2 separate regions of the Homo sapiens genome follow, and region 2 is linked to region 1. Evidence: fine-mapped expression QTL. A gene starts in region 1. The other region holds a variant in brackets. All regions are shown on one strand. Distances are between the middles of the regions. Region 1 holds the start of RPS9 (ribosomal protein S9). Region 2 holds the start of LILRB3 (leukocyte immunoglobulin like receptor B3).

Region 1 (5,487 bases):
ACAGGCAAAACCTTTAAGTATGAAGACAATAGTTTTCAACAGCACAATAAACCTTACACCTTCAACAAAAGCATGTCCTACTGCTGAGGCTCCACTGGGCCAATGCACCAAGAGAATTTAAAATGCTTTAAAAATGCAAACCAGGGAGGACCTCAGTGGGAAACAGGTCCTTGTCATCATACAAGGCAGTTAGGTATTACAATGCCTTCATTTCTGATCTGAAAAATGGACATGACTCCTACATTTCTTCACAGTTGTGCTGGGGGGTGGGGGGGGAGTTCGTGTTGTTTTGTGTCTCGCTGTCACCCAGTGCAGTGCCGCGGATCTCGGCTCACTGCAGTCTCTGTCTCCCAGGTTCAATCAATTCTCCTGCCTCAGCCTCCCGAGTAGCTGGGATTATAGGCACACCACCATGCTCGGCTAATTTTTGTATTTTTCGTAGAGATGGAATTTCACCACGTTGGCCAGGCTGGTCTCTGACTTGAGGTCTCCTGACCTCAAGTGATCCGACCACCTCGGTCTCCCAAAGTGCTGGGATTACAGGCATGAGCCACCACGCCTGGCCTCTATCTGTTGATTATTAACTGCCAGCCAAATGTTGGCGGCTGTTCAGTCTTAACAGACGAGACTCAGAATCTCGCTAGTCACACATCTTAGTGGGAAAGGCAGGATCTGAATCAAGGCAGGATTACACCAAAGAGCAAACATCCAAGCTCCTCCTTCCTGTCCCTGACTAGGCTAGATGGCTTCATTTACTAGAAAGTGTACTCACCTGAACAACTGTGTACCCCTTGGGAATTTTCACTTCTGCCTTGGAAAACCACAAATAACCCTCAGACACCTGCACCGCTTTCTCACATGACTGTAAGTTTCATTGCAATTAGGATCTATGTCCAGAAAGTCCTCCCTAAAACCAGAACCAGCTATAGCCCACTCCCCACAGAACCCTGGGATGAATTCCCACCCAGCATCAGTATCTATGGGGGAGGGATCTCCAGCACTTTCATGAGATTATCAACGGGGTCTACAAATTGACGAAAAGAATGAAAGGGTCAGGTGCGGTGGCTTACACCTGTAACCCCAGCACTTTGGAAAGCTGAGGTGGATGGATCACTTGAGGTTAGGAGTTGGAAACCATCCTGGTCAACACTGCAAGATCCTGTGCCTATTTAAAGAAAAAGCTTCTAACATCTGCAAGCCTGGGACAAACTGTGATAATCTGTAGCTAAACATGCGCCAGGACTTTCTCAACGCCTAACATGGATGACCACTCTCATGCCTAACAGTCAGGGCTCAGGTGTAGAGACTGCTTTTCACCATAAATCATGACTACCCAAACTCAGGCAAAAGCAGCGTCTCAGGATATACAAATGCCAATCTTGGTCATGCCAATCTGCTGTAGAAAGCACTCCAATAACACCGCATCTCAGAGTAGATTTTAAAACAAGATGGTTAAGATGGTACATTTTCAATTTAATGTGTATTTCACCACAATTAGTAAAGTAAGCCTAAGTCTATGTGATCTGCATGCCCTCCTAAAGTCATCACCTGAAATGCTGTTCCCTGAGACATTTTACAGGTTCTCTCCTGTTCAGGCCTTTGCTAAATACCACCTAAATGTCCTTGACCAGCTTAAAAAAACAAGCACCAGCCTGGACAACATGGTGAAAACCCATCTCCACTAATAATAGAAAATTAGCCAGGCTTGGTGGCCCATGCCTGTGATTCCAGCTACTTAGGAGGCTAAGACAGGAGAATCGCTTGAACTCTGGAGGCGGAGTTTGCAGTGAGCCAAGATTGCGACAACTACACTCCAGCATGGGCAATGGAGCGAGACTCCGTCTCAAAAGTAAAATTAGCCAGGTGTGGTGGCGTGCGCCTGTCTGTAGTCCCAGCTACTTGGGAGGCTAAGATAGGAGAATTGTTTGAACCCAGGAGGCGGGGGTTGCAGTAAGCCGAAATGGCGCCACGGCACTCCAGCCTGGGCAACAGAGCAAGACTCCGTCTCAAAAGACTAAATAAAACGAGAAAACTTAATTAAAAAAACAATAAACCAAGCAAATGTGCAAACCCTGTTATCACCATCACTTAGCCCAGAAATTCCACTTCATAGTCTACTCTCATCCACTAGCAAACAGGCCACATAAACAGAATATAAAGATATAGACGGGTGCCCAGGTGTGCCAGGCCTATCTTTAGCTCTGGTCATTACTAAACTGAAGGTCCAATAACTGGGCAAAAAAGCCACACACCTAAGAAACAGGGCAAAGACTGATCCAGATACACTTTTCCTACTCCACAAGTGCCACTAAAAGTTAGAAGGCTGGTTCCATTTATCCAATGACACAACTCTCATCACTGGAACAGAGGCAACAGAAGGGAGAATGAACCTCACAAGCCCTGCACCCCATCCCTCTGCTGTGGACTCCCATACGCACCTTCGAACAGACGCCGTGGGTCCTTCTCATCAAGCGTCAGCAGTTCCCGGGCGGCCTTGCGGATCTTGGCCAGGGTAAATTTGACCCTCCAGACCTCACGTTTGTTCCGGAGCCCATACTCGCCTGGTGGGGAGAAGGGGGTGGACAAGTGTAGTCCCACGTACTGGCACAACAACTAGACTGGCAGCTTTGGAATCACAAAACCTTCCTAAACCACGAATAGTACCAAATTTAGGGGACGGACTAGATAGAGTACATGGGCACCTTCATCCACGTGCTAACCGCCTCCCGGAAGCCGAACCACTTCCCGGAAGCCTTGGCCACTCACCGATCAGCTTCAGCTCTTGGTCGAGACGAGATTTCTCGAAGGGTCTCCGCGGGGTCACATAAGTTTTGCGACAAACCCAGCTCCGGGCCACTGGCATGTTGGCTCCGCTTCCCCGTCTGCGCCTGCGCGGGAGAGAAGTGTGAGCGTAAGGGATCCAAACGGCGCCTGCGCAGTCCCACAACTACGCCAAAACCTCGCGGAGCCCAGATCCGATCTCGCGAGAATAACCTCCAACGCTCTCATAGTCAGTATCTGCCCCCACAACCGTGCTGCACTCCCGTTCAACCACCCTGCTCTGTTTCCTAACGTCTTTAGCTTACTCATGGAAACTCGGAAGGCCCGGGCCACCATCCAACCCAAACCCTAGAGAAAAAGCACACCACCGCACCTCACCTAAGCAAACCACCCGGTCACTGAGAAAGAGGCGCGGAAGCGCCACGGCTGCGCTCTTATAGTAACGCCGGCGTCTCGTGACGTTTTCACGCACCACGCACGTCAGAGCCAATCAGAAGAGGCGTTGGCTGGCTGAGAAGCAGTGGAGACGTGAGGCTGGGCTAGAGCGGCGTGCTAACCTGGGAGGACTAGGTTTTTTCCGGCCAGGGAGTGGAAACCTGAGAAGTAGGGAGAACCTTCCTTCTCCGCCCCTGGACGGTGGTTTTTCTTTTTCTTTCTGAGACAGGGTCTCGCTCCGTCGCCCAGGCTGGAGTGCAGTGGCGTGATTTCGGCTCACTGAGGCCCCGACCAACCTCTCGGGCTCGAGCGATCCTCCCACCTCCTCCCCAGTAGCTGGGATTACAGGCACACGCCACGACGCCCGGGTAGCATTTTTTTTTTTTAACAGTCGGCGTCTTGCCATGTTGCCCAGGCTGGTCTTGAACTCCCGGCCTCGAGAGAGCCTCCCGCCGTGGCCCCCCCAAAGTGCTGGGATTACAGGCGTGAGCCACCGCGCCCAGCCGAGATTATTTCTGTCACTAACAATAATGTGGCATTCTGGAACGCTATGTGCCACATACTGTTCTAAGAATTTTAAATGTATTTACTCAATCTTCAATACATACTTACAGAGCACTCTCAGAGAAGTTGCCCCCCCACCCATGGTACTATTATTATCAATAGCCACTTAAGGGGTATTAGTACTATTATCAGTAATTTATTTTATTTTTGAGACGGAGTTTTTCGCTCTCGTCACCCAGGCTGGAGTGCAGTGGTGCGATCTCGGCTCACTGCAACCTCCGCTTCCCGGGTTCAATCGATTCTCGTGCCTCAGCCTCCCGAGAAGCTGGGACTACAGGCGCCCACCACCATGCCCGGCTAATTTTTAAATTTTTAGTAGAGACGGGGTTTTGAACTCCTGGTCTCCAACGCCTGACCTCAAGTGATCCACCCGCCTCAGCCTCCCAAAGTGCTAAGATTACAGGTGTGAGCCACCGCGCCTGACCTAGAGTTCTCTTTTTATATATAGTCTGGTTATTGTCTGTCTGTACACCCATCTCTCCACTCCGAATGCGATGGTCTGTCTCCACAGCTCGTGTTCTTCAGTTGTCTTCCCTACGCTGCTGCCTCGGCAGTCACTATCTCCTCAGGAAGCAGTCCCACCCGCCCCTTTCTCTTCCACGGCATCCACACCATCCGGATGCCTGGATTCAAATGCCACGTCACCACTTGCCAGCTGCAGTGCCTTCGACAAGTTTCTCAATCACTCTGTGCCTCAGCGTCCTCCTCTGTAAAACGGCGAATGATGGTAGCGCCTACCTCATAAGCTTGTGAGGATTAAGTGAGAGTCTATCCAGTGTTGAGGAGAGTGGCATAAATAAAGCGCCTAGTGGTAGCTACCATCGTCATTATTGTCATCTGCATTGTACTTCCATATCTTACAAACTACCTTGTTCAGTTTTATGGGTTTTTTGTTTGTTTGTTTTGTTGTTTTGAGACGGGGTTTTGCCATATTGCCCAGGCTGGTCTTGAACTCCTGGGCTCAAGTGATCCACTCGCCTCAGCCTCCCCAAGTGCTGGGATTACAGGTGTAAGCCACCATGCCTGGCCAAATTTTATGCATTTTTGTATCTTGAACACGCGTATATTATTCATCTGGAAGGGGGAAACGTGGAAGGAAAAAACTTCCATAAGTTTTCACTCCCTTCAGGATGAAGTCCAAGCTCCACAAATTCCGGGTGCCTCGTGATTACAGAGATGGTTTTATAATGGTGGTTGAACCTGTAGGTTCTCAAGTCTTAAAAAAGATCTGCGTTTGAACCTCAGCAGTCACTGACGAGCTCTTGATCTTAGGCAAATTAGCCTCTTCAAGAGTGCTAAATGGGAGAAAGTAACAGGACTTTCCTCATAGGGTTTGATGATTTAGAGTAAAAAAAAAAAAAAAAGAAAAGAAAACCAGCACAGAGTCTTGTGTACTGAAGGTGCTTAATATCTTAACACAGCTGACTCTGTACAGTCTGGGGGCGAGGGGCACTGACCCCCAGCTCAGCCGAAAACCTCCATATAGGCTGGGCGCGGTGCCTCACGCCTGTAATCCCAGCACTATGTGGAAGGCCAAGGCCGGCGGATCAACTGAGGTCAGGAGTTCGAGACCAGCCTGGCCAACATGACAAAACCTGGTCTCTACTAAAAATACAAAAATTAGGCAGGCGTGGTGGCAGGTGCCTGTAATCCCAGCTACTTAGGAGGTTGAGGCAAGAGCATCACTTGAACCCAGGACGTGGAGAT
Region 2 (5,229 bases), 23 kb before region 1:
GTCTCTACTAAAAATAGTAAAAAATTAGCCGGGCGTGGTGGCGGACGCCTGTAGTCCCAGCTACTCGGGAGGCTGAGCCAGGAGAATGGTGTGAACCCGGCAGGCGGAGCTTGCAGTGAGCCGAGATCGCGCCACTGCACTCCAGCCTGGGTGACAGAGCGAGGCTCCGTCTCAAAATAAAATAAAATAAATAAATAAATAAATAAAAGTGTGAAATATCATCTATTTTTCTTTTCAAAGGCTGTTTGTGTTAGTATTGGTTTGCTATTGCTGCCATAACAAATTACACGTATTGAGCAGCTTCAGCAACACAAACTCATTATCTCACAGTCTTTTAGGACAAAATCAAGGCCATAACGTGGCTGCATTCCTTTCTGGAGGCTCCAGAGACGCGAATCCATTTCCTTGCTCTTTCAGATTCTTAGTAGAAATGCATATACTTGTATATACACAGATTACAGATAGATCTATGCTTATTCGTTTTTTGTATGTACTGTTGACTTATTCACAGTAGCATCTCATCTTCTCCATTTGGGGTTCATTATTCCACTCCCTGATTTACATTGTTTAGTATTGCTTTCAGAAAGAGCCCAGATGCAAACATGTCTGCAGCCTTGCAGCTCAAGCGATGCCTGCTTCTCTGTCTCTGTCTCTCTCCGTGTGTGTGTGTGTGTGTCTCCCTCTCCCTCTCTCTCTCTGTCTCAATCTCTCTCTGTCTCTCCGTCTCTCTCTGTCTGTCTCAATCTCTCTCTTTCTCTGTTGTTATCATAGTACCTGATAAAAGGACACTGAAAACGCCCTCCTTATTCCTCATAAGGCCACCGCCTGACCTGACGGGTCACGAGTGCCCCGAGTCTCCTTATGTTCTAGGATTTATCCACAGCTGACACTGCAACTCGGTCCTTTAATAATAACTAGGCCAGGTTGCGGTGAGCCGAGATCGCGCCATTGCACTCCAGCCTGGGCAACAAGAGCGAAATTGCATCTCAAAAGATAATAATAATAATAATAATAAATAATTATAATAGTAATAATTAGGCCCAGCACAGGAACTCTCTCCTCACAGTTAAACGCTTGTGGTTGTTTCTCCTGTATCTTCTGGGGCTGCTGTTTGCTCTTTGGAACTCCAGTCCCGATGAACTTGTCATTCATTCAAGGGTAATTTACATTTTCTCTGGTAGTTTTATGATTATTTTAAATTAATGCCTCATGGTTTTCACTTTACCATGATCGAGATATTCAATTTAGTTATAAACTGATGTTTTCTCTTCAGTTCTGTAAAAATTTCAACCATTAGCTCTTCATGCATATCATGAACTAACATCCTTCTTCCTTCTTTCATTCTGAAACCGTGACAGACACGTTCTTTCTTCTCATTCAACTTCGTGTATATATCAATATTTTCTATTGTTCAATTTCTGTTCTTTCCATGATACAGTCTGGAAAATTTCATGAATATTTTATCCCAATGTATATATTTATTATTTCAGCTGTCTTGCCCTGGATTAAATTATGCTTTGATTTTGTTATGTTTGCATAGTAGGTATATATGGTTAGTAAATTGCTTTTTTTTTTGAGACACAGTTTCGCTCCTGTTGTCCCAGCTGAAGTACAGGGGCGCAATCTCAGCACACAGCAGCCTCCATCTTCCAGGTTCAAGAGATTCTCCTGCCTCAGCCTCCCGAGTAGCTGGGATTACAGGCACTCACCACCACGCCCAGATAATTTTTTGTATTTTTAGTAGAGATGGGGTTTCACCATGTCACCCAGGCTGGTCTCGAACTCCTAGCCTCAAGTGATCTGCCCGCCTCCACCTCCCAAAGTGCTGGGATTACAGGCATGAACTACCATGCCCAGACATAAATTCCTTTTTAATGGCGTTAATTTAATATAGTTTTTCACCTTCACGATGTCTGTCTAATGCATTTCAACAACTGTCTATTTTGTCCTC[A/G]TACGGTTGTCATTCCTGTGGGGCGGCTCCTCCCACGCACCTGGCCTTTCATAAAGGGTTTCTCCCACGGCTGTCCAGGCATCAGCCTGATGAAGGGGATTGTTGCCGCTGCTCCTGCCCCACTCCCCCAAACTCAGTGTCAGCTCAAGATTGTGCCCAGCAGCGATGGGACCAACGCCAGCCTCACACTCACCTGTGGGGCAGACGCCCATGTCTGACCACCGTGGATCGAATCTGTTTCTCACACACAGGGGAGGGGCTGAGCGCTGACCGTGGCCTCCAGTGAGTGAGCAGAGACCCCCCAGCGCCTGTCCACACACACAGGGGAGGGGGAGCCACCGCTTCCAGCCTCACCCAGAGCCCTGACCCCTCCCTGCCTGGGAGGACGTGGGGTTCCTCTTCTGTCCCACATGGAGGTGGGAGCCTCCTCCTCCCTAATGACGCTCGGTGGTCCCAGACACCTGTGGCCACTCAGCATTGAACTCTGCTCATGGAAGGGGATGCGTCTCAATGTGAGGAACTGTTTTTCCTCTTTCTCTGCCTGTGGCTGTGATGATCTGCATATTTCAGACGTATCACAAGGAGAATTTCATGGTATTTGGAGCCGATGTGGGCTCTTGAGTGGGGGCGTCAATCATCCTCCTCGACTGTGGAGCCCAGCACCAGGATCCTCTCCCGTCCCCACCCTCCTGTCTGAACTGGTCTGGAAATTCACCATGGCTGAGCCTCCCATGTCCTGGGCACCACTGACCCCCACAGCCACTGTGATGAGTGGGGTTCATGACAGCAGGCTCAGAGGTGACATTCATGTCCAAAGTCACATAAACCCTAGATGATAATCAGGAATTAAATACAAATCAGCTCACCTTCCCCAGAATCAGATTATAGATTACAATGAAACATATATATATATATTTCTCTTTATCCCCTCTATTTCTCCTTTTTAGACAGGATCTTGCTCTGTCGCCCAGGCTGGAAGGCCAAGGGGTGATCATAGCTCCCTGAAGCCTCCGCCTCCCGGGCCCAAGTGATCCTCCCACCTCAGCCTCCTGAGTAGCTGGGACCACAGGCATGAGCCTCCATGCCCAGCTCACTTTTTTCTTTTCTGTAGAAACAGGGTCACAGTCTGTTTCCCAGGACTGTCTGAAGCTCCTGGCCTCAAGCCATCACCCGCCACAGCCTCCTGAAGTACTGGGATTCCAGGCATGAGCCACCACGGTAGACCCTGCATTTCTCTGTGCTCACTGCCACACGCAGCTCAGCCTGGACTACACAGCCAGGTGTCAGGTGCGTCTCTGCTGATCTGAGTCTGCCTGCAGCATGGACCTGGGTCTTCCCTGAAGCATCTCCAGGGCTGGAGAGACGACTGCCATGGTAAGGACCCCGTAACGCTGAACTGATGGACGAGCTGAAGGAGGGAGGGAGACCCCATGGGGAGGCTCTGAGAGGGAGGAGGAGCCCACGGTCACCCTCGCCTGAAAGGGGCTGACTCAGGAAGGCACCAGGTCTATTTGCGGCTGTGTCCCCGTCCTCAGTGAGATAAAGATAAATCAGGCAGACAGTGGCCCGGGGGCAGGGAGACCCCATTTCTCTCTGAAATGCCTGCAGAGAGCCTGGTGCCTGCCCCCACTTCAGCCCTGGGGAAATCAGAGCCAGGTTCTTGGGGTGGCAGTTCCTCTTCCTGTGGGCTGAGGATGAGACAACCCCATGACAAGAAGGACCCAGCCTCCGAGCGGCCACACCCTGTGTGTCTCTCTGTCCTGCCAGCACTGAGGGCTCATCCCTCTGCAGAGCGCGGGGTCACCGGGAGGAGACGCCATGACGCCCGCCCTCACAGCCCTGCTCTGCCTTGGTGAGATTTCAAGATGGGGAGGGGGAGATCCGAGTCTTGGAGGAACCCCACCCCACACACAAGCCCTGGTCCATCAGGAGACCTCAAAAGCTCAGGAGGCACCCGGGCGGGGACCTGCTCAGGCTTCAGGGCAAATGCCTCACAGGGAACTCTCTTCCAGGGCTGAGTCTGGGCCCCAGGACCCGCATGCAGGCAGGTGAGTCTGTCCCCAGCTGTCCCAGGTCCCTACTCCTCACTGGGACAGGGGGCCACCCATGGGCAGCTGGGGGAGGAGACAGTAGTTCTGGGTGACTGATGGGGATGATGGGGAAGTCCTGGGGCTGGGAGCTGGGATCTGAGCGTGGGGATGTCTTGGGATCCAGCCTCTGATTTCCATCTAGGGCCCTTCCCCAAACCCACCCTCTGGGCTGAGCCAGGCTCTGTGATCAGCTGGGGGAGCCCCGTGACCATCTGGTGTCAGGGGAGCCTGGAGGCCCAGGAGTACCAACTGGATAAAGAGGGAAGCCCAGAGCCCTGGGACAGAAATAACCCACTGGAACCCAAGAACAAGGCCAGATTCTCCATCCCATCCATGACACAGCACCATGCAGGGAGATACCGCTGCCACTATTACAGCTCTGCAGGCTGGTCAGAGCCCAGCGACCCCCTGGAGCTGGTGATGACAGGTGAGAGGACACTCTGGGGTCCCAGCCCCAGGCTCTGCCCTCAGGAAGGGGGTCGGCTCTCAGGGGCGTCTCCCTCTCACAGCCCAGCCCTGGGGATGATGTGGGAGGTGGGAGCCCCATTTAACACGGTGCCTCTTTCTCTCCTAGGATTCTACAACAAACCCACCCTCTCAGCCCTGCCCAGCCCTGTGGTGGCCTCAGGGGGGAATATGACCCTCCGATGTGGCTCACAGAAGGGATATCACCATTTTGTTCTGATGAAGGAAGGAGAACACCAGCTCCCCCGGACCCTGGACTCACAGCAGCTCCACAGTGGGGGGTTCCAGGCCCTGTTCCCTGTGGGCCCCGTGACCCCCAGCCACAGGTGGAGGTTCACATGCTATTACTATTATACAAACACCCCCTGGGTGTGGTCCCACCCCAGTGACCCCCTGGAGATTCTGCCCTCAGGTGAGGGAGCCACGGCCTTGTCTAACACACTTTCGGGGCAGCTGACAGGTTGTGGGGAGTTTGGCTGGTGACTGAATCTGGAAAGGACCCAGAGTGATGTGTTGAAGGACGGGCTGAAGGCATGAGGGAGACCCCATGGGGAGGCTCTGACATGGGAGGAGGAGCCCTTGACCACGTTCACCTGGAAGGGGAGGACTCAGGAAGGCATCGGTGTGTTTGCTGTGAGGTCCCAGCTCTCAGGGAGAGGAGGAAAGATCAGGCACAGTGGCCAGGGCTAGGGAGACCCCACTCCTCTGAAATGACTCCAAGAC

What was found.
Region 2: its variant is fine-mapped to the expression of RPS9 in nucleus accumbens (GTEx, PIP 0.97).

What each region holds. Positions count from the first base shown.
Region 1 is chr19:54,198,561-54,204,047 of GRCh38, reverse strand. It overlaps RPS9 (ribosomal protein S9), which reads right to left and starts at 3,190. Exons shown (of 5, transcript NM_001013.4): 1 at 3,160-3,190; 2 at 2,767-2,888; 3 at 2,439-2,561. The coding sequence starts at 2,863. RefSeq lists a silencer at 2,877-3,370 and an enhancer at 3,133-3,802.
Region 2 is chr19:54,221,517-54,226,745 of GRCh38, reverse strand. It overlaps LILRB3 (leukocyte immunoglobulin like receptor B3), which reads left to right and starts at 3,739. Exons shown (of 13, transcript NM_006864.4): 1 at 3,739-3,803; 2 at 3,964-3,999; 3 at 4,184-4,468; 4 at 4,616-4,918. The coding sequence starts at 3,770. All of the region lies in intron 1 of LOC124904768 (a long non-coding RNA gene), which reads right to left. The variant A/G (reference allele first, on the strand shown) is at 1,952.